Linked DNA regions of Homo sapiens: region 2 is linked to region 1. A link means that fine-mapping ties the variant in region 1 to the expression of a gene that starts in the linked region. Tissue or cell type: whole blood. Region 1 holds a variant in brackets; the other region holds the start of a gene. All regions are shown on one strand. Distances are between the middles of the regions.

Region 1 (10,496 bases):
CCAGCACCGACTGCAGGAACTCGAAGGTGGGCCGCTCCTCGGGCCGGCTGCGCCAGCACTCGGCGATGACGCCGCGGTACAGCTCGGGCGGGCAGGTGTCGGGGCGCGGCATGCGGTAGCCGCGCTCCAGGTTGCGGATGACCTCGGGGTTGCTCATCCCTGCGGCAGAGGAGACCGCAAGCGGGGGTGAGGGGCTGGGGTCCTCGGTGGGTGGGGGGCCCTGAGCGTCCCGCGGGGCACAGTGGGCCCAGGCAAGGGACAGCAGTGCCCACAGTCCCAGACCACTTCTCCAGCCTCGTGCGTTGCCTGGCTGCCCGGTCTCTAAACAGCCCTTTATTTACTTTTTATTGCCTGGGGAATGCCTAGAAATGAGGCTGTAGATTTTCTCCTGAGTACGGGGCAGGTCCTCTGAAGATGGGACCCTCCCTCTCTTGATTACCTGTGACCACCAGGGGCACAGCCAAGCCCATCACTCATGGGCAGCTGCCAGGTGCACACAGCAGCAGGTGACCCGGAGCCTGCCCACCTGTGGGGGCCAAGTGGCTGGAGCCCTTCGACTGGGGCTGGGGGCTGTCGTCCACGATTCTGGCCACACAGGAAGGGGCTTTGGGGAATCCACTATGGGTGCAAAGCCAAGGTAGGCACAACCTGTCCTCAACTGAGAACAAGCCACTGGGAGTAAACTTGAGTTCGGATGTGCCCTTTGTCTTGATTTCAGTTTGAGGGACTCATTTGACCTCTGCTGGAGGAAGGAGACACAGCCCTGTGGCCCAGAGCAATAGTGATGCAGGGGGCAGAGCTCCACCCCAGATGCCATGCCTGGGTCTCCGTCTTCGCTCTGGGACTCACTCTGAAAAGAACAGGGCAGCCACAGGCACCAAGCACAGGCGACCTGCCATCAGGGCCGGCCGGGAAAGCAGGGAGCCGCGAGCTGCGGGGTGAGCCACCTACCTGGGTATGGCACCCGCCCATAAGTGACAACTTCCATCAGGAGGACTCCAAACGACCACACGTCTGCTTTGATGGTGAAGACCCCGAAGTGGATGGCTTCCGGGGCTGTCCACTTGATGGGGAACTTGGCCCCTGTGGGAAAAGCCATGCAAGCTTTGGGAGGCCACGGCCGGTGGCCCCTACCCTCCATCCTCACCCCTACCCCTGCTCCTGCTGTCCTTCCATCAAGCCCCCACTGCGGGGCCTCACAGGGCGGGGCGGCCAGGCATGGCGGGGGAGCCACTACCGCACACCAGGACACATGACCAGGTGAGTGCAGACACGACATCAGCAGCACAGAAAGACGATATGGACACCAATACCACACAGTCACCCACTTTGGTTCTTTAAAAAGAGAGCGATGGCCTCAATGGGCAGCCACCACGTTTCCACCTGGGATGGAAGGGGCCTGTTTCACCTTACAGGGGCCTTGTTTAATTTAAAAGACATGGCCTGGGCAAGCCATTTAAACCTGCGGGCGCCTCCGTTAGTCCCTTCCTGCAAAATGGAAATGGTGACACTTGTACCTCCGAGGGCCGCTATGAGGAAGAACTCACATCCGGCTGCCCTGTGAAGCACCTCAATGGCTGCAGCCCCGGCCAGCATTTGGAGCAGACCTCAGGGCTTGGCACTTCACAGCCTCCCCTGGCCTCCATTTCTCGGTCTCCCCAGCCAGCCTGAAGTTCCCGAGAGAACAAGCCATATCCTGTCTGCTTGTCATCTGACTCATAGGCTCAGCAGACACTGCTTGCTAGCTTGATAAATATATGTGACCCCTTCAGATTCTCTTGTGACGTAGATTTCCACCTCAGTTATATGCACAGAGTAAAACAGTGCTCCGTGGACACCCTAATACAGGTTGGTTTGCTGATCGCACATGAGAGCTGTGTTTCCCACAGTGTGCTCTGTGAAAGCCTAATTCCATGGAAGGTTAATAGGGACTATATAAAAATAGTATTTGGGCATGGCTTACACCTGTCATCCCAGCGCTTTGGGAGGTCAAGGCAGGCAGATCACCTAAATTCAGGAGTTCGAGACCAGCCTGGCCAACATGGTGAAACCCCATCTCTACTAAACATACAAAAATTAGCCAGGTGTAGTGGCACACGCCTGTAATCCCAACTACTTGGGAGGCTGAGGCAGAAGAATTGCTTGAACCCAGGAGGCGGAGGTTGCAGTGAGCCAAGATTGTGCCACTGCACTCCAGCCTGGGTGACAGAGACTCCATCTCAAAAAAAAAAAAAATAGTATTTGGAGCTCAAATTAGTTTGGGAGGCACTAGGTGAGGCAAACATAAACTGTTTCTTTGCTGCAGGACTTCTCAGTGCCTTTAATATGTTGATGTGCACTGGGAATCTCCAAGACAGGGAGTAGGGTGGACTGCTGTTTCTCCAAACCTACCTTATCCTAAAGCTGTTCCTCCATGGGAGGTCTCAGGGCACTACCATTCTGCTGAACACATTTGGGTAAATGAAGGAAATGCTGATCTAGAGCTGTAGAAACCGTATAGCCCTCAGGTGTCTTCCCTCAGGGCTGTGCTGGGAGAAGTTAAAGGCGGCTTTGAGGAGCTGGGAAAGATAAGGCCCTAGGTTTCCCTTGTGGTTAGGGGCTGTGCTTACCCTCTTGGGCCGTGTATTCACTGTCGATGATTCGAGCCAAGCCAAAATCAGCAATTTTGCAGCACAAGGCCTCAGACACCAGGATGTTGGCCGCCCGCAGGTCGCGGTGGATGGAATTCATGCGCTCAATGTATGCCATCCCTTCAGCAATCTGAGGGAACAGGCACATGGTGAAGGACAGCCTGGGGGCCTCCACGCCAAGACCGAGCCCACACTGTGTCCCCCGCACAGCCCCTGTGGGCTGCTGGGGAAGGAGCTGTTTCTTGGATGGAGTAGAAAGGTGACTGTGTTGCTCCTCAGCCGAATAAACTCCTCTCCTAGAAGCCCAGAACAGCAACGCAGCAACGTGGGCATCAGAGACACAGGGGCTACCTGTGCCCCTCCCCCTCCTCGTTCTCGCTCCACACAGCTGTGTCCAAGGGTCTGCAGAGATGGAAGATAGAAGAACACAGGCAGGAGAAAAGGAGAGGGAGGGAGAAGAGAAGAAATGGTAAGGAAGGAGGGGGAGGGGGAGCAGGAGGCAAGGACAGGCAGCTCTCACTGGCTGGCTGGAAGCACAGCTCCTGGAGCTGGAGGCCCTCGGGAAGTCGCTGACCTCTAGCAAGCTGCTTAACCTCCCCGAGGGGCCACAGTCCTGACATGGAACATGAGGGATGTGGTCTCCAGGGCAGGGGGTTGAGGCAAGCATTAGACGAGGTTGATTTGTGACCAAGAACCTCACCCAGCGCCTGCCCCGTGGGGGCACCCAGGGAGCACTGGCAGATCCAGGTGGACAGAGGCTGTGAAGAAGAAGAGACTTGTCTCTCCTCCCCTGATCACCAGCCTGGGCCAGGGATAGCAGCTGGTGCTACTTGGCACCTTTTAGCTGAGGAAACTAAGGCTTTATTCACCCAATCAATGGACGAAGAAACTGAGGCAGAAAGCAGAGACCCCATTTACCTCTTCAGACATGCGACTTCAAGAAGCCAGCACTAGAATTGATTCCACTTCTCCTTATGCTTGCATTTTGTTGGTTTATCTATGAATCCATCCATCTATCCATGCATCCATCCATCCATGCATCCATCCATCCACCCACCCATCCATCCATCAACACATCCATGCATCCATCCATGTATCCATCCATCCATCCATCTATGCATCCTTCCATGTATCCATCCATCCATGGATCCATCCATCCATCCACCCACCCACCCACCCATCCATCCATCCACCCATTCATCCATCCATGCATGCATCCATCCATCCATCCATCCATCCATCCATCCATGCATCCATCCATCCACCCACCCACCCACCCACCCACCCACCCACGCATCCACCCATCCATGCATCCATCCATCCCCTTGCTACACCATGCAATCAATACTCATTTACTAATATGGGACTGTGGGGAATATAAAACTGAGTACTAAATATATCTGGGCAGCATCTAACAGTACTCGTTCTGATAACTAATATTTATTGAACAGTACCAGAAATATATTTTAAAAAATGTTGAGTAGGGCCCAGATCTGCTTTCAAGAAGAAGCTGCCCAGATCTGCTGAGCAAGAACAGTGCTTCCGGGAACACCTGAGCTAAGGGCTCTCTGGCAGTTTCTTGTCCAGGGAAACCTTCATAGAAATGACATTACGCTTGAGCCATGGATGATGATAAGGATTCTGCCAGGTGGGAAGTGTTCAAGGCTTCCTGGGCAGAGGAGGTAGAGGGGTGGCGAGGCATGGGGCATGGGAACCGGTGGCATCTGGCTGCAAAGTGGGGCCCGAGGGATTGTGATTGCAGGGTTCCTGTGGGGTTGGCCAGATCTGGCCTTGGAAGAAAGGTCTGGCGAGACTTTGCATGGCTTCCTATGGAGTAAGAAAAGAAGAGCCCAGAAGGGCCGGGTGTGTGTCTGCTCATGTGTGTGTAAGTTTGCGTGTTTGTGTGTGTGTTTGTGTGTGTGAGTTTGTGAGTTTGTGTAAATGTGTTTGTGTGAGTTTGTGTTTGAGTCTGAGTCTGTGTATTTGTGTGTCTGTGTGAGTTTGTGTGTGTGAGTCTGTGTGTCTGTGTGTGTGTCTGTCTGTGTGTGAGTTTGCGTGTCTGTGTGAGTCTGTGTATGTGTTTGTGTTTGTCCGTGTGTGTGTGAGTCTGTGTTTTTATGTGTGTGAGAGTGTGTGTGTGTACATGTGTGCTTAGAGAGCCATTGGCATGGTCAGCATGTGGTTAGAGGCTGCCCTTCTGGGAAGTTCTGATTTTCTGGCTCCTCACCCCCGATTCTGTGGCTACATCCAGGTATTAAACTCCGATGGCTTTTCACATCCTTTGCCCCTGGGTCACACGAGATTTCCCAAGGGGGTGTAGTGGGGATTGAATAGGAGACAGCGGAGGGTGAGAGAAGGAAGGGGAAAGGAAGCAGCAGCAGTGGGCAGGCTTATCACTGCCCTGGGGTTTGAAGCCGGTTACCAGCACTCATTTTCCAAAACCAGCCTGCCCAGATGGCTGTCTGCCCACCTCAGCGGAAAAAGGCGTTGTGGCATCAGTTCCTGCAGCGGCGCTACTGGGTAAGGCTGGGCGAGGGGCGAGGTGGGAGGGCTGATGTGGGCGGTGGGTGGGAGCGTTTCCTCTCGGTGGCAGCTGTATGTGTGTGTGTATGTGTACGCACGTGTGTGCCTCACAGGCTGACCACAGACCAAAACTTTTCTGCTGAGAGTTCCAGTTTTAACAGGGCCACCAGATGTGCTTCCTGCCAGCTAGAGCTCTCGGCTAAAACCCTCCTCTCCACTCTGCTCTTCACCCCATGGAGTCCAGAAAGTTCTGCATGTGAACGTGAGGGACACTGAGGACCAGTCCTGGGTAGCCAAGGAGGTCCAGCACTCGCAATTCCCTGGTGGCAGAAGGTGGGGCTGTCCTCCAGGGCTCAGAGAAGTCATGTCCCTGGCATCTGTGTGTAGCTCAGGCCTGCCCATCAGCCTGGGGTCGACGCCAGGGCTGTGCAAAGGCTGAGGGCCCCTGGGATGGGAAGTCCTACAGGAGATGTTTGTGGGCACCATCTAAGGAAGAGATGAGGTCACAACAGAACACACTTGCCTGCCGGGTTCAATGGAACTCTTGCTAACTCTGTGTGTTTCCCATGACATTCATTCGCCCTCTCTTCCTTCGGAACAGAATAGCCTCATTCCAACACAGCAGCCCGGGTCTAAGGCTCCATTCCCTGGGCTCCCTCACAGCTGCGTGGGGCAGGAGGCACAGTGGCCAGGGTTTGCAAGTCCAAGTGCAGTGGGTGACCTTGGGGATATCTGCCTAGAGGAAGGTGGCCTTCAGTACCCCCTGACTTCTCCTGCTGGCTGAGAGGATGGGGTGGTAAGGCACGAGCAGCCATTGTGGGCAGCAGGTGGCACATGCCGCCCTTTCTCTGCACCTGGTACTTCACCAACCTGCGCCGACATGTCAATCAGCCTTGGGAGTGACAATCTGCTCCCTTCATCTGTCTTCAGGAAATCCAGCAGGCATCCTAAGAAAAGAGAAGTTGCAAGTGCCCTTCTGCAAAGTGACCCGCCCCTGGTGGTGCCAGCCTCTCTCTGGTGTGAGTGGCTCCCCATGGGCGCGGGAAGTGGGAGTTTGCACCCTCAGATCTCTCGGTGCATCAGGAAGGATCTACCTACTGCTGCCGAGTGCCTTCCACTTTACAAAATGCCAGTCTCAGCACCCCGGGAGGCAGCCAATATACCAGCAGTTGCCCAGAAGTTAGGTTTCAGCCAGGTGCAGGGACCTGTCTGAAGTCACCCAGCCGGGAGCTG[G/C]GAGTGGGACCCCAGTTCTGACTCGAAGTTTCATGCCCCTTCTTGTCTTTCCCCCCGTGTTGGCCTCGCTCCCTTGATCCCTGCTGGCAGACACCCTCTGCCTCTGAGGACCAGGCATCAGCAAGAAAGCACCAGAATGGAGAGAACTGTCCCCCAGGTTTGGTGCAGGGGACAAATGCAGCTCCCCCTGGAATCAGAAAGCTGGGAGGGATGGATGCTTGCCCTAGGGGCAGGCTAGAGGCACCCCCAGCACAGCCTCCGACCGGGGGCCCCTTGGTGACAGTTGTTAGGGAGCTATATCAACATGGGCATGTTAGGATCCTATAGGAGCAGTGTGCGGTCAGGGTCATAGGAGGGTGAGAAAGTGGCATGAGAACTTGGCCACGCCGTGGACCTCAGAGGCCATCAAGCCCAACCTCTCTGGCCATCCTTGTAAAATATTCACACAGTTGTAAATGGTTGCATGACCAGGAGGCAGGAGACCTGGATCTAGTACTGTCCCTGCATGCCTGGCCTGGTGTTCGTCTGACTTTGCAATGCTCTGTCCCTCCCAGCAGGCATCAAAGAGTGCTAGGCACAGAAGATGCACTCCAGAAATGCTGTCTGAACTGCTCCTGGGCTGAGAACATGGCTCTGTCAGAACCACTTCACCCTCCTGTTTCTCACCCTCCCTCTGTCCCTCCCCCTCCCTCCATCCCTCCCTGTCCCCACACCGTGCCATGCCCTAGATCTGCAGGACCCCCTGGCCTGGTGAACCCACCGCAGCGGACCCTCCTCCTCCTGCTAAGCCCGGCCCTCCCGCCTCGCTCTGAGGATGCGGCTCTGCGGGGGGCACCACCTCTGGCCATGTACTCGGTGACAATGTAGATGGGCTCCTTGGTGACCACTGCGTAGAGTCGGACCAGCCGCTCGTGCTGCAGAGCCTTCATCACGTTGGCCTCACCCAGAAAGGCTTCTGGAGACATGGTTCCCTCCTTCAGCGTCTTAATGGCCACCTTCATGTTGTTTTTGTAGTAACCTGAGCCCGGGGGAGTGAAGAAGCCAATCAGAAGACAGAGAGCTTGCTCGGAGGTGATCCCTTAACCAAAATCGGGGTAAGTGCCCAGGTGCCACCCCATTCCAGGTGCCAGAGCTGGAACATGCAGTTCCGGAGGCCATGGTTGTGTGGTGCCTACCTTGCGTTCCAGGTCCCTTCTATATGGGGCCTCAGGCAGTGGAGGAATGTACCCTGCCTGGGGGGCATTTCACCTATTTGCCCCACACCCTGGGCCTGTGTCCTTCTGTCCTGCACGGAACCTGTGTCCTTCCCCCACCCCTCCCCTACATAATGAGTCTCTTCTATCACACAATAACTCCTTGGTGGAAATAAGCACACAGCCTGGGGTACACTGGGCAGGAGGATGACGCATGGGGGTCTCCTTCCCTCCTTCTGAAGCCCCATGGCGATCCTGTCCCACTCCTTAAACTATCTGTATCTCCACACTCTCCCTGTACTCCATGAAGTCCCCTGAAGGGCAAAAGACAACTCTACTTGCTTTTCTAGAGGACATGGGCCTTGGCAGGGACCTGGGTACAGCTCCTGCCAAAAGCACCGTGGGCATCAGCCCCAGGTAAGGGAGCACTCATGGACCAGCCCCAGGTAAGGGAGGACTCATGGACCAATCCAGGGATAAAACGGAACACGAGTTTTATATCCTGGTGGGCGGGGGGGGGAAGGGGGCAGGTGTCAGCAGCGATGGAAATGTGAGGACACCAGGCCTGGAGCTTCAGTGACTTGGCCAAAGTCCCACGGCTGCCCTCGGTGTGCACTCAGGCTCTGGAACATCATGGCTCATCACGTTTAACCTCCTGTTTCCATCTGGGTGATGAAAAGCTAAGGGGAGTTAACGCGCCGCTGCAGCTCATTGTCAAAGCCAGCTTCAGGCAGAGAACGAAGGAGGGAGCGACTTCGGGGCTGGGTGAGCTGGATTCTGTTCCTGCTCTGCCACCACCATAAGCGGTCCCAGCTGTTACAACGCGGCTCTGCACCTCCACTTCCTCCTCTGTAAAATGAGTGTCCTCGCCTCTGTCCTCGCTCCCTCTCAAGACTTCTGGGGGAGGGATGACACGCTATGAAAATGCTGAACCTGGACTCAGGATGCGGCGCAGGTGGAATGGGGGGAGAAATGCTCCCACGTGTGCACACACTCACCCATCCAGACTTCGCCGAATTGTCCAGACCCGAGTTTCCTGACCAGCCTGAGAGACTGCCGGGGGATCTCCCATTCATCCTGGGCCCAGGGATTCTGCGGGGCCGGGCGCACACAGGGCAGGGTCAGCCTCTGGCATAGACCATCCCCCTTCTCTGCATTAGGGAAGAAAAGACAGGGCTGGGGGTTACCAGAGCAGCCAGGCTCTACCTTGGGAGCTGTATCATTCCTAGCTGGCCCTCCACTCCCCAGCCACCCCACCCCCTGCATGGGTGTGTGCACACGCCTGCACATGCACACACACTCAACTCTTTCTCTTCGTTTGCGCAAAGCAGGGCATGCTATCTCTAAAATCGACCTGCTCACTCTAAGACTGAAAATGCTTGCTACTCTCTAAGGGGTTCCCTGCTGAGCCAGGAGAGGGAATTAGGGCCACCAATTCCCGGTGCTCAGAGTTGCTACCTCCTTAGGCCTAACTTTGGGATAATCTTTCCATCCCCCAAGGTGGCACCAATGACTCACACAATTGGGAATCTTAGCGAGAGATCCAGGGGCTCTTGGCACAAGTCCCTGCCCCCATTGCACGCCCCCTCTTACTAGAATAGTGCTGCACCAGGGCCTGGAGCGAGGGGAAGGTGATCCGGGGGGAGATGTAGTAGCCCCCTTCATCCAGGCAGCGGATCTTATAGTGCTTGATCAGCTCCCCCTGGGTGGTGACATCCTTCACAGACAGGGAGAAGGCACCTGGAGGGTTCATGAAGACACACACGAGAAGTAAGGCACAAAGACAAAAAACGGGACTGGGATTTGGGCCTCATTTTAAAGCTTTGAAAAAAGTTCCCCAATTCTGTTCTTCATTATCAGCACTCCCTCCACAAGTTTCCTTTCCCTGCATCTCAACCTCCATGCTTTTGGAAGCCTCCCCTGTAAGTTCCATCTGACTCTGACCTTGGCATCCCCCCACTATCCTGCAAAACTCAGCCAGGGAATCACAGAGCCCTGCGGCAGGCAGCACAGTTTCTCAGCAATCATGTAGGTCCCCACTTGGGCATCTGGTCACTCGGGGACCCTTTGTCATGGACTATTGAGAAATCTAGTCTCGTTGGAGTGACTAGGGGCTTTATTTTCTGGCTAAAGAGGGTATCTCTTACTCCTACAAGCAGATAGCCATTCACAGCTGCAAGTACCCATGTCCATGGCGGACACCGTAATAAGCTATGCCCAGGGGCTCTGTTCAAAGTCATTTGCTGCCTGTTACATACACCTGTTATTTTGTCTTCTAGGTTAATGTTTTCCCGCAGGCAAGTGGTAGCAGATGTCAAGGGTTAAGGACAATTTAGGAGGTAAGAATTTCCAGGTAAGAAACGCTTTTCCATGAACTTGATGTTTTTATAAAATGCGTCTGTCCAGCTACTTGGGTACCATGACCTTACCCCGCCCCTTACCCATTATTTGGGAGATGAGGACGCTGGGGCCCAGCAGAGTTCGCGGCAGGCTGGGGGGCTCCCGGTTCCCCGAGTCCGCGCCTACCTCGAGCAGTACCACGCCTCCCCGCCAGGGGTCAGGCACGGACCCCTCGTTCTCGTTGTGGACGCTTGGTTTTCCGCGGTCCTGTTTGACTTAAGGCTCTTTCCTCTCCTGTCAGTTCCCCTGCCTCAACCCCCTTCCATCCTCCAGTTTCCCTCAGCCAATGTGCCTCTCTCATCACCTACTTGCAAAAGGACACCCAGAGGCGTACGCCATGCTGTTGCCACAGCCCCTCCACACCCCCACCCCAGCCTCAGCCCAGAGGCTGCAAACTGTCTCCCCGACCCTGCCCGGGTGCAGCTGTGCCCCCAGTCTCTAAGGAACCCGAGCCTGGCCTTAGGGAGTTCATTCATCAAGGGCTTTTCTCTCCATTTTGTAGGCTGCACTTGTGTCG
Region 2 (8,932 bases), 65 kb after region 1:
CCAAGTCCTTTCCACTTCCTCATATCCACAACACGCTGAGAGAGAAAATTAAAGTAGTCTTCCTAGATATTTGACTGTGTGATTCCAAATATTTTGGGGTTCACAGACCCCTTTGGGAATCTGACAAAAACTGTAAGTACCCACCTACACAAAAGCTTGTTTACAAGTTCACGGAGCTCAGAGCACCAGGAAACTCATCAGGAATCCACAGACTCAATGCTCAGAACCCACTTCATCTATTAAGCACAGAACCTCAAATGCCCTTATAGACACCACATGGCATTGTGCGTTTCACACATACACAAACTTTTCCTGCACTTGAACGACCTGAGCATGGGAGCCTCCTTACATTTTGCATCCCAGGTGTGTCTTGTTTGCCTCCCACTGGTCCAGGTTCAGCATCCTAGGTGCCAAAGTGTGCAAAAAGGCCAGCAGCTAGTTGTGATGAGAAGGAACGTGAGAAAACTTCCTTGATTACAATGTGGAAAGCACCAGCGCTTTGATGAAGGGGTTGCACAAGCCCCACAGTGGACAAGGAGGAGCCTCGTCTATGTCTTGGGCTCTGGACCCCCATTCCGTGGTTCTGTTCAGTTCTCATGTCTGTGCTTGAGAGTGGGTGCAACTGCTCCCACTTCACACTCCCAGCTGGCAGGTGCAGAGCCAGACTGACCTGGCTGGCAGGAAGCCCCAATGCTTTCATCTATACCACACTGTCTTACAGGAAGTGGAATGTGCCAGAGGCCTCAGATGCCTCTTCTCTTTCTTCCAAGGGTCCTGTCAAAACCCCAGCATGCTGATGGCACTGGGGTGCACCACGATTAGGGATGATCATTCAATTATCTTTGCTTTTCCTCTTTCAAGCTTTCATCCTCATGTCTTAACCTTGATTTTCATTTAAGGTTTTGCCCTTGTGTCTTTAACTCAAGAACCACTTTACCAGATACCCCTGGTGGGCCAGGCACTGCGCTGGGTGCTGGGACCTGGAGGCACATGTAGGGCATGTCCTTGTCCTCAGGAGCTTTGGTCCAGAGAACCTGGCAGGCCTGCAAACCAGAGCCCTGGGTGTGTGCTGGTGGTTGCTGGGGACACACAAATGGGCTTGGGCACTGTGACTGGGAGGAGACATTCGCACCTGCCCTGGACGTCAGAGCAAATGCAAGTTGCCTAGGTGGGAAGGTGGGGAAGGGATTCAGGCAAGCAGGAGCACGCCAGGGAACATTCCACAAATGGGAGGGCTGCTGTGGGGTAGCAGCAGGCTGGCAGTGGGGTAGCAGATGTGACAGGAAAGGCACTGCAGGCCCACATGTAATCACCAACTTTTAGCTGTGATTTTCCTGTAAGAGTTTTGTGATTGATTTCCATCTCAGTATGTTGAGATTTCCATCTACGTGCTGTCTTCCTGCGGCTTCATCATTTTTTCTTCCTCCTCACCTGCTTTGGAAGCTTTTCTCTAATCAGGCGCAGCATCACCTTTGAGTAGGGCTCACCCGCTCTGCTGGGCCTGCAAGAGGGGCCAGGTTTCTCTGTCTTGCTGTTACCTCTCTATACACGTGAACCCTGCAAGCCAGGATGCTGGCCACCGGTGGCCAGTCCCCAAGGCTGCAGACCCCAGGCTGCAGGTGGGCTCACAAGGTCAGAATCCTCACTCAAATGGGATCTGGCCCTTTGAGTCCCCTCTCTACATCCTAGAGGCCACAGTTTACTCTCGAGGAAGGGCTGTCGAGCCCAGCTCACAGCCACTTGGCTGACCAGATTCTGTGGGGTGGTTGAGCCCAGAGGACGGCAGATTCCTGGCTGGAATTCTGTACTCCCCCAGGGGCCTGGGTCCTCATTCTCTCCATTCCTGGCTTTCTGCTTCCTTCCTGGAGAGGAGTCAGGTCTGGGTAGCTGGGCCTGTGCTTGGGGTGCCAGGAGCCTGCACCAGTGCAGTGAGCTTCGCTGGGCAGATGAGAGTGTATTCCGTCCTGCAGCCCCTGCCACAGAGCAAAGGCTCAAAAATGCATGCTGGGCCAGTCACAGTGACTCATGCCTGCAATCCCAGCACTGTGGGAGGCCAAAGTGGGAGGATGGCTTGAAGCCAGGGGTTGGAGATCAGCCCAGGCAACAAAGCGAGACCCCATCTCTTCAAAAAATAAGATTAAAAAATTAGCCAGATACAGTGGCGTACCTGTGGTCCCAGCTACTCAGGAGGCTGAGTTGGGAGGATCGCTTGAGCCCAGGAGGTCAGTGCTGCAGTGAGCGATGATCTCTTGCCACTGCACTCCAGCCTGGGCAACAGAGCAAGACCCCATCTCTGAAAAACAAAAAACATAAACGAAAAACAACCCCCACAAAACCCATTGGACACCAACAACAACAATATAATCATCCATGAGAAATACTATGAAGAGAGGCAAATACAGAGCTATTCTGGAATCAGGTAGGGGTTGGGAGAGAGAATGATGGATGGTCAAAAATTCAAAAGGCCTGCTATATTCCAGAATGTTCAAAGAGAAGGTGTGATCACCAGGCCATGAACGCCAGTTTTCCCAAGAATGCTCAGGATTTGGCTACTCCTGCTCTGAGGAAGAATGAGTCTAATTTTTTTTAACTCTTTATTTTGCAGTAATTTTAGATTTGGAGAAAAATTACAAGGGATAGCACAGAGAATTTCCATATTTCCTTCACCAGGTTCTTCTAATGTGAACACCTTACGTAACCATGGTACATTTGCCAGAACTAAGCAGTAATTGTTACCACAATATTAGCGAGACCCCAGGTCTTGTTAAAATTTCACCTATTTTTCCACTAATGACCTTTGCGGTGTTGCTTTAGGATCCAATACAGGATGCGAATTCTGGGTTTGGGTGTCCTGACCATCATGTCTCCTCTGATCTGTGACGCTTTGCCTGTCTTTCTTTGTTTTTCATGACCTTGACATTTTTGAAGGTGAAATATGTTGTGGAATCTTCCCCAGTTTGGATTTGTCTGATGTTTTCTCATGATTTGACTGGGGTTATGAGTTGGTGGGAAGAACCGCACTGTCGTGGCAGTTCACAATAGCAGCCCAGCTTATTCCCGGTGATGCTAAGCTTGGTCCCTTGGTGAAGCTGGCATCTGCAGGTTTCTCCTCTACAGAGCTACTATTTCTCCCTTTCCATACTCTTAGTCCAAACCTCACTCAAGGTGAGGGGAATTAAGTCCCACTCTCCCGAGGGAGGAGGATATGCACATATCACAGCAATTTCTTCTGTTACTGCAAACGCACAATTCCTTAGTTCCTTGGTAATGTGGGTGGATGAGGGTGAACTTCATCCACCCGCATTACCAGATAAATGGAAACGTTGTCAAAACCTTACAATTTACACAAATCCTTTCAAAATATGTGATCAACTATGCTTTCCTTTTCACAGTTGGTGTTTCCTGGTGAAATAGATCTCTTAAACAAGAAGATCATCATTACATCTATTCAGTTACCCCATTCCTGAATGCCTGAAAAATGGAACAACTTCATTCAGAAACAAACAAATAAAACGAAAGCAACAGTCATTTGCCTTGAGCCAGATGCTCCCCGCCTGTGACCACTAACCTCTGTCAGCTCTGCACAGTCAATATCACCTCCTATCAAGAGGCCGAGTGACTCGCCGGGAGCGCAGCAGTGGCCTGTGTGTGCCCGCTCAACCCCCTCTCTACATCCCACGTCCCTTCTCTCCTCTGTGGCACATTCACTGCCTTTTCCAAAAAGCAGAATCTACCCTGGATGGATGACCTTTTATAAATTAAAAATTCTCAAAACTGGAAATGCACAAACCATGGAGCAATCTATTCATAGCTGAGGCAGCGATCCATTCATGCCTCTTCCTCCGTCTGTGGCACCCACAGCAATGTCCTTGCTTGCTTGCCCCACTACAGGCCTTACAGCACCATTTGCACAATTTAAAGGAAGACGATAAAGAACCCGGAAGACGCAGGGCCTCACCTTGGCAATGCTTCAGTGGTGTTTCACCATAGCTCTTCAGATCCTGACACCCTTACAGTGGAGCAGGCTCCTAGCGACAACGAGCAACTTCCAACACCATCCTAAAGCAAAAGCCAGTCCCAGATGAATTCTTCTCATCTCAATCAGTTTTCATGGCTTGTGGCTTTCTGCCGGCAGCAGACAGAGGTGGCAGCACCCCCGGTCTGCGATCAGAGCCTCCCCAGTCCCCAGTGAGCAAGTGCAACAGGGGCCCCGCCCTCCAGCCGAGCCCTTCTGAAGCTCCTGTGGGCTCCCTGGGTTTGGGGGTATCCCTCTGCTCCAGGAAAACTCGTGAGGAAGGACCATGAGCAGCTGCCCTGTCCCTGGCCCTGGGCAACGTGGGTCACAATGCCCTTCTGTCACCAGAAAGTTTTCTCCTGGGGTTTTGGTTTAACAGCACGGCTGGTATTTTTTCTGCACCAAGTCCGGCAGAGTTAGCAAACCTCCATGCTGACTCTACAAGGTAATTTGCCCTGCCGTGTGGACAAACGCTGCAGATCTCATGGAGAGGGCTTGGGCTCTGCCATGTGCCATCTGTGTGCACCAGGGCAGCCGTTCTTTCAGCCTCACTGGTTTTGCTTTGTCTTTAAATGATGCTAATAATAGCTAGCTCACAGGATACTATCAGCATTAAATGGTAGAATGGGTATGAATGGTGGGCATAGAATTGGTGTTTGGTAAAAGCTAATTTCCCATGTGTTTTACAGTACCCTAGCCAGTAGTTAGTTGACTTGGATCTCAGAGCCTCTTCAATGGTGGAAATTTGCTTGGCTATGAAAACTCAGAGGAGTAGAGAACAAGAATAATGGAGGTAACGGGAGAAGGATCCCAACATCTAGAGTGGTGAGTGGTGTCTGGAGTGGTGGGTGGCATCCTGTACACAGCAGTCAAAGGACCAATGGGACCAAGAAGGCTTCTGTGATGACGTCAGAGTCTTGCTGGTCCAGCCAGACACAGTGAGCCACTGGTCAGCTGGTTCCTTTCCACTAGTGTCTTGATATTGGCTTATAAGAGGAAGTCACTCGGTGGGCTCTCTCTTCTCCCTTCATAGTCTTGGATCCTTGAGAGTGGGTGTGGGAGGCAGACAGGGTAGCTTCTACCCCATGGTCCAGAATGTCAGCTTTCTCAAGGAGTTCATTTCCTTGGATTGGACTGAGACAATACTGAGCTATGAGTTGCAGGTTTGACAGGTGTTCATGTCAATAGACGCAGCAACGCAGAGTTCTGGGGTTTTAAGACACTATGGAAATAATCTGTTTCACTTCCCCAAGGGGTTTTGTGAGAATAAATGGATTCATGCATAAAAAGTATCTATTACAGTATTTAGCACATAATAAACTGCAAATACCTGGAAGCTGATGTGAATGTGGCTAATTGCTTTAAATCCCAAAGCTGATCTTCTCCACGTGGTAGCAGAGGGCTCACAACAATGTCCAGAACCCTGGGCCTGCTCAGTCCATGGCAGCTCCTGTTAATTTACTCTTACATTCACTTCCTGATACCTACTACATGGATCCAAACATGAAACATGAGTTCCAAACTCTGCGAGCTTCTGATTTAAAAAGTGACTGATTTGAGATGAGGTAACTTAGTCTTCCTATTTCAATTCAATTAATGCAGCACTGTTTTTCTGAACACCTGCTCTGTGCTAAGCACCTGCTGGAGGCTGGGGATACCAACGCAGCTACACTCCATCCTCCTCTGAGAGTCTCAGCCTAAGGAGCTTGGAGAAGGGGCCTGATAAGCAGATCACTGCAGTGGAGCGTAGTAGATGTAGCCACAGAGGCCTCAACGGGGCACAGTGCTAGACCAGAGGCGGAGGCAATAATTCTATCAGGGGTCACTGGGGGAAGCTGCCAAGGAGAAGGCTTTGAACATGATTCGTGACTAAGACTCCTACAGACTCTCAGAGACAGATCCCTAGGCTGAGTCTTTTACTGAACCAGGATGTTGTGACGCTGCCTGAACCGCCTCTAACATTTTTTCAATAGGGCCTAAATAGCTGACGTTTGGACAACTTTTATATACTTGGACTTGAGGGTATAGAGAATGTAGTGGAGAGCAGGAAACCCAGCATCCTACAAAGAAAATACATGGTCTGTCTACCCAAGGTTAGAGTGGGAGGGGATGTGAGAGTTTGCAGGGAGGTGTGCTGGCCCTTATGTGATCTGTGATAAGACATCACCTTTATGCCCACCCCAACAGACAGAGGTTGGAAAATAACAATACCAGACACACACACACACACACACACACACACACACACACACACACACACACGATTCCAGCAGCCACTCAGAAAGAAAACAAGGAAATGACTTTGCTCATGGGTTCCAGATGTCTGAGCAGAAGTGAAAGTTAATTTCAGCCATTTTCACCCTCACAGTCACGGGCCCATGAGAAAGGCGGAAGAGAGGTGGGGAAAGGACCCCGGGGAGAAGATGGGAACAGTGACACTTGTTAGGGGAGGCTGGGGAGCCTTTTGGTAGAAAACCTCAAAGCGGTTTTCTCAAGGCGGGACTGAGACTAGACCCTAGCTCTGAAACGCCCAGTTCAGCGTTCAGCATCACTGGTTCTGCCATTTATTTTTGTACATTTGAGGTGACTTATGCAAAATTCAGCTCTCCTTCCATGTGCCTTCACCAGCCTCCTAATATCAGTACATCTCTGATCAAAATCAAAAGCTGTAGGCAATAAAGTAAGTGGAAGAAACATAAAACCAATCCAGTCCAAGATTCACCTCAGAAGGGTCTAAGAAGTTGGCCAATTTCTTTTTGAAGAAAACAAGTATAAAACTAGACAAAATTGTCAGAAACAACAATTTCTGGGTACTAGAAAATGTTTGTTTCTGGGTACTAGAAAAACCAAAAGCAGACAATGATCTGATAAGTGTTTAATCTTAAAAATGGCCTGCATCAGAATGGCCATGAGTCTACGGACATCTTGCCTGAAGCTCCCCAGCCCCTGGCCTGAGTGAGGAAAAGCACAGGTTACCTAATGGGAATGGTGGACTTGGTTTGAGGGCTGTCACTGAAAACCAGTAGCTAGGCAGGGAGCGGTGGCTTAAGCCTGCAATCACAACACTTTGGGAGGCTGAGGGCGGGGCAGATCACTTGAGGTCAGGAGTTCGAGACCAGCCTGGACAACATGGTGAAACCCCATCTCTACTAAAAATACAAAAATTATTTCGGTGTGGTGGTGGGTACCTGTAGTCCTAGCTACTAGGGAGGCTGAGGCACAGGAATCGCTTGAACCCGGGAGGCAGAGGTTGCAGTGAGCTGAGATCGCACCACTGCAATCCAGCCTGGGTGACAGAGCGAGACTCCACCTCAAACATAAATTAAATAAATAAATAGATAAAAAGAAAACTAGTAGCTATACCAGCAGAAGTTGGTAGATTTGGTCTGGGATGGGGGAGATGAGAATCTGCATTTTATGGGTTAAAGTTCATGGAATCAGTTCTAGGGAGAAAATAAAAATCTGCAGCTTTACTGGCTTGAGATTATAGCTTCTTTTCATGGTAGACAGGAGATCAGCCAGAATTGTGATGAGAACTTGGAAGTAAGCAAGCCATGAGAGGGCTGGGACAATAAACTCCCTGCACATCTCTGACTAGGGAAGAAACCCAAAAAGGCAGCAAAAAGTGAGAGCCAAGGGAGACCTGACGATGTGCAAAAATTTTTTTGTTTAGTTTAAAATTTATTTGTTTTTATGTATTTAAGGGGTACAAGTGCATGTTTCTTACAATGCATATATTGCATAGTGGCGAAGTCTGGGTTTTTAGTGTGCCCATCACCTAAATGGTAAACATTGTACCCAATAGGTAGTTTTTTTTTTCCTTCTTTGAGACAGGGTCTCACTCTGTCCCCCAAGCTGGAGTGCCATAATGTAGTCACAGCTCATTACAGCCTTGACTTCCTGGGCTCAAGTGATCCTCTCATCTCAGCCTCCAAGTAGCTGGGACCACAGGCACATGCCACCACACCCAGCTAGTGTTTTGTATTTTTTGTAGAGACAGGGTTTTGCCACAAAAAGTACCTATCGGAACAAATAGGTACTTTTTCAACCCTCACCCCTGTCTCACCCTCCCACCTTCCGTGAGGACTTGTACATGTGAATGTGTTTCTTCGGCCACACACAGCTCTGGCAGCAGAAGATGGGAGGCTTAGTTGTTCAAGGTACCTGAGCATAACTTCTGTCTAAATAATTGTCTCATCATCATATAATACAAGAATAGAGGACACCTTTAGGGAGCCAGACTGAAAAACAAAGAAAAATATTATAATAAAAACTGCACTGTAGTATCAGTGGCTGCACACCATGGAGGAGATTAATTCTGCAATTTAAGTCCAGAAAAGTTACTAAAACAGAAAACCAACAACTTTTAGGAAAGTGAATGGAGTCTAGAATCACTGCAATGTCTAGTTTTCAACCAGAAATTACTAGACATACAATGAAACAGGAAAGTGTGACCAGAAAAACCAACACAGACAGTAGATTAAGACACAACTTCAAAGAAGTTGTTATAGCTATGCTCAAGGAATTAAGGAAAAATGTTCAAAGAATTAAAGAAAATTTTGTTAACAGTGAACCAATAGATACTTTGGATAGATAGATGAAAATTATAAAAAAGGAATCACATGGGATTTCTACAGCTGAAAATTACAAAAATTCACTACATGGGTTCAAGAGCGGATCTGAGACGGCAGAAGAAAGAAGCTGTACATTTGAAGATAGAGCAGAAGTTATGCAATCCAAAGAACAGAGAACGAAAAGTTAAGTAAACAGAGCCTTAGAGACCTGCCAGACAATATAAAGTGTTCAAACACAAATGTAATAGGAGTCCCAAAAGGAGAGGAAAGAGAAAGAGGCACAGAACAATTATTTTTTTAAAAAGTTGAAAAGTCTCCATGTGAGTAAATACCATTAACTTAC

What was found. PIP is the estimated chance that this variant, and not a neighbour inherited with it, causes the effect.
Region 2: it holds the start of BLK, and the variant in region 1 is fine-mapped to the expression of BLK in whole blood (TOPMed, PIP 0.95).

Annotation. Positions count from the first base shown.
Region 1 is chr8:11,553,566-11,564,061 of GRCh38, reverse strand. It overlaps BLK (BLK proto-oncogene, Src family tyrosine kinase), which reads right to left. Exons shown (of 13, transcript NM_001715.3): 7 at 9,173-9,319; 8 at 8,578-8,730; 9 at 7,225-7,404; 10 at 6,024-6,100; 11 at 2,610-2,760; 12 at 952-1,083; 13 at 1-159. BLK-AS1 (BLK antisense RNA 1) reads left to right here and starts at 5,797. Exons shown (of 5, transcript XR_948956.3): 1 at 5,797-6,172; 2 at 7,401-7,996; 3 at 8,200-8,344; 4 at 9,859-9,918; 5 at 10,482-10,496. RefSeq lists enhancers at 642-691, 5,338-5,627. The variant G/C (reference allele first, on the strand shown) is at 6,387.
Region 2 is chr8:11,489,618-11,498,549 of GRCh38, reverse strand. It overlaps BLK (BLK proto-oncogene, Src family tyrosine kinase), which reads right to left and starts at 4,163. Exons shown (of 13, transcript NM_001715.3): 1 at 3,959-4,163. RefSeq lists enhancers at 3,852-3,941, 3,952-4,141, 3,031-4,230, 6,232-6,381 and cis regulatory regions at 3,850-5,470, 5,544-6,804.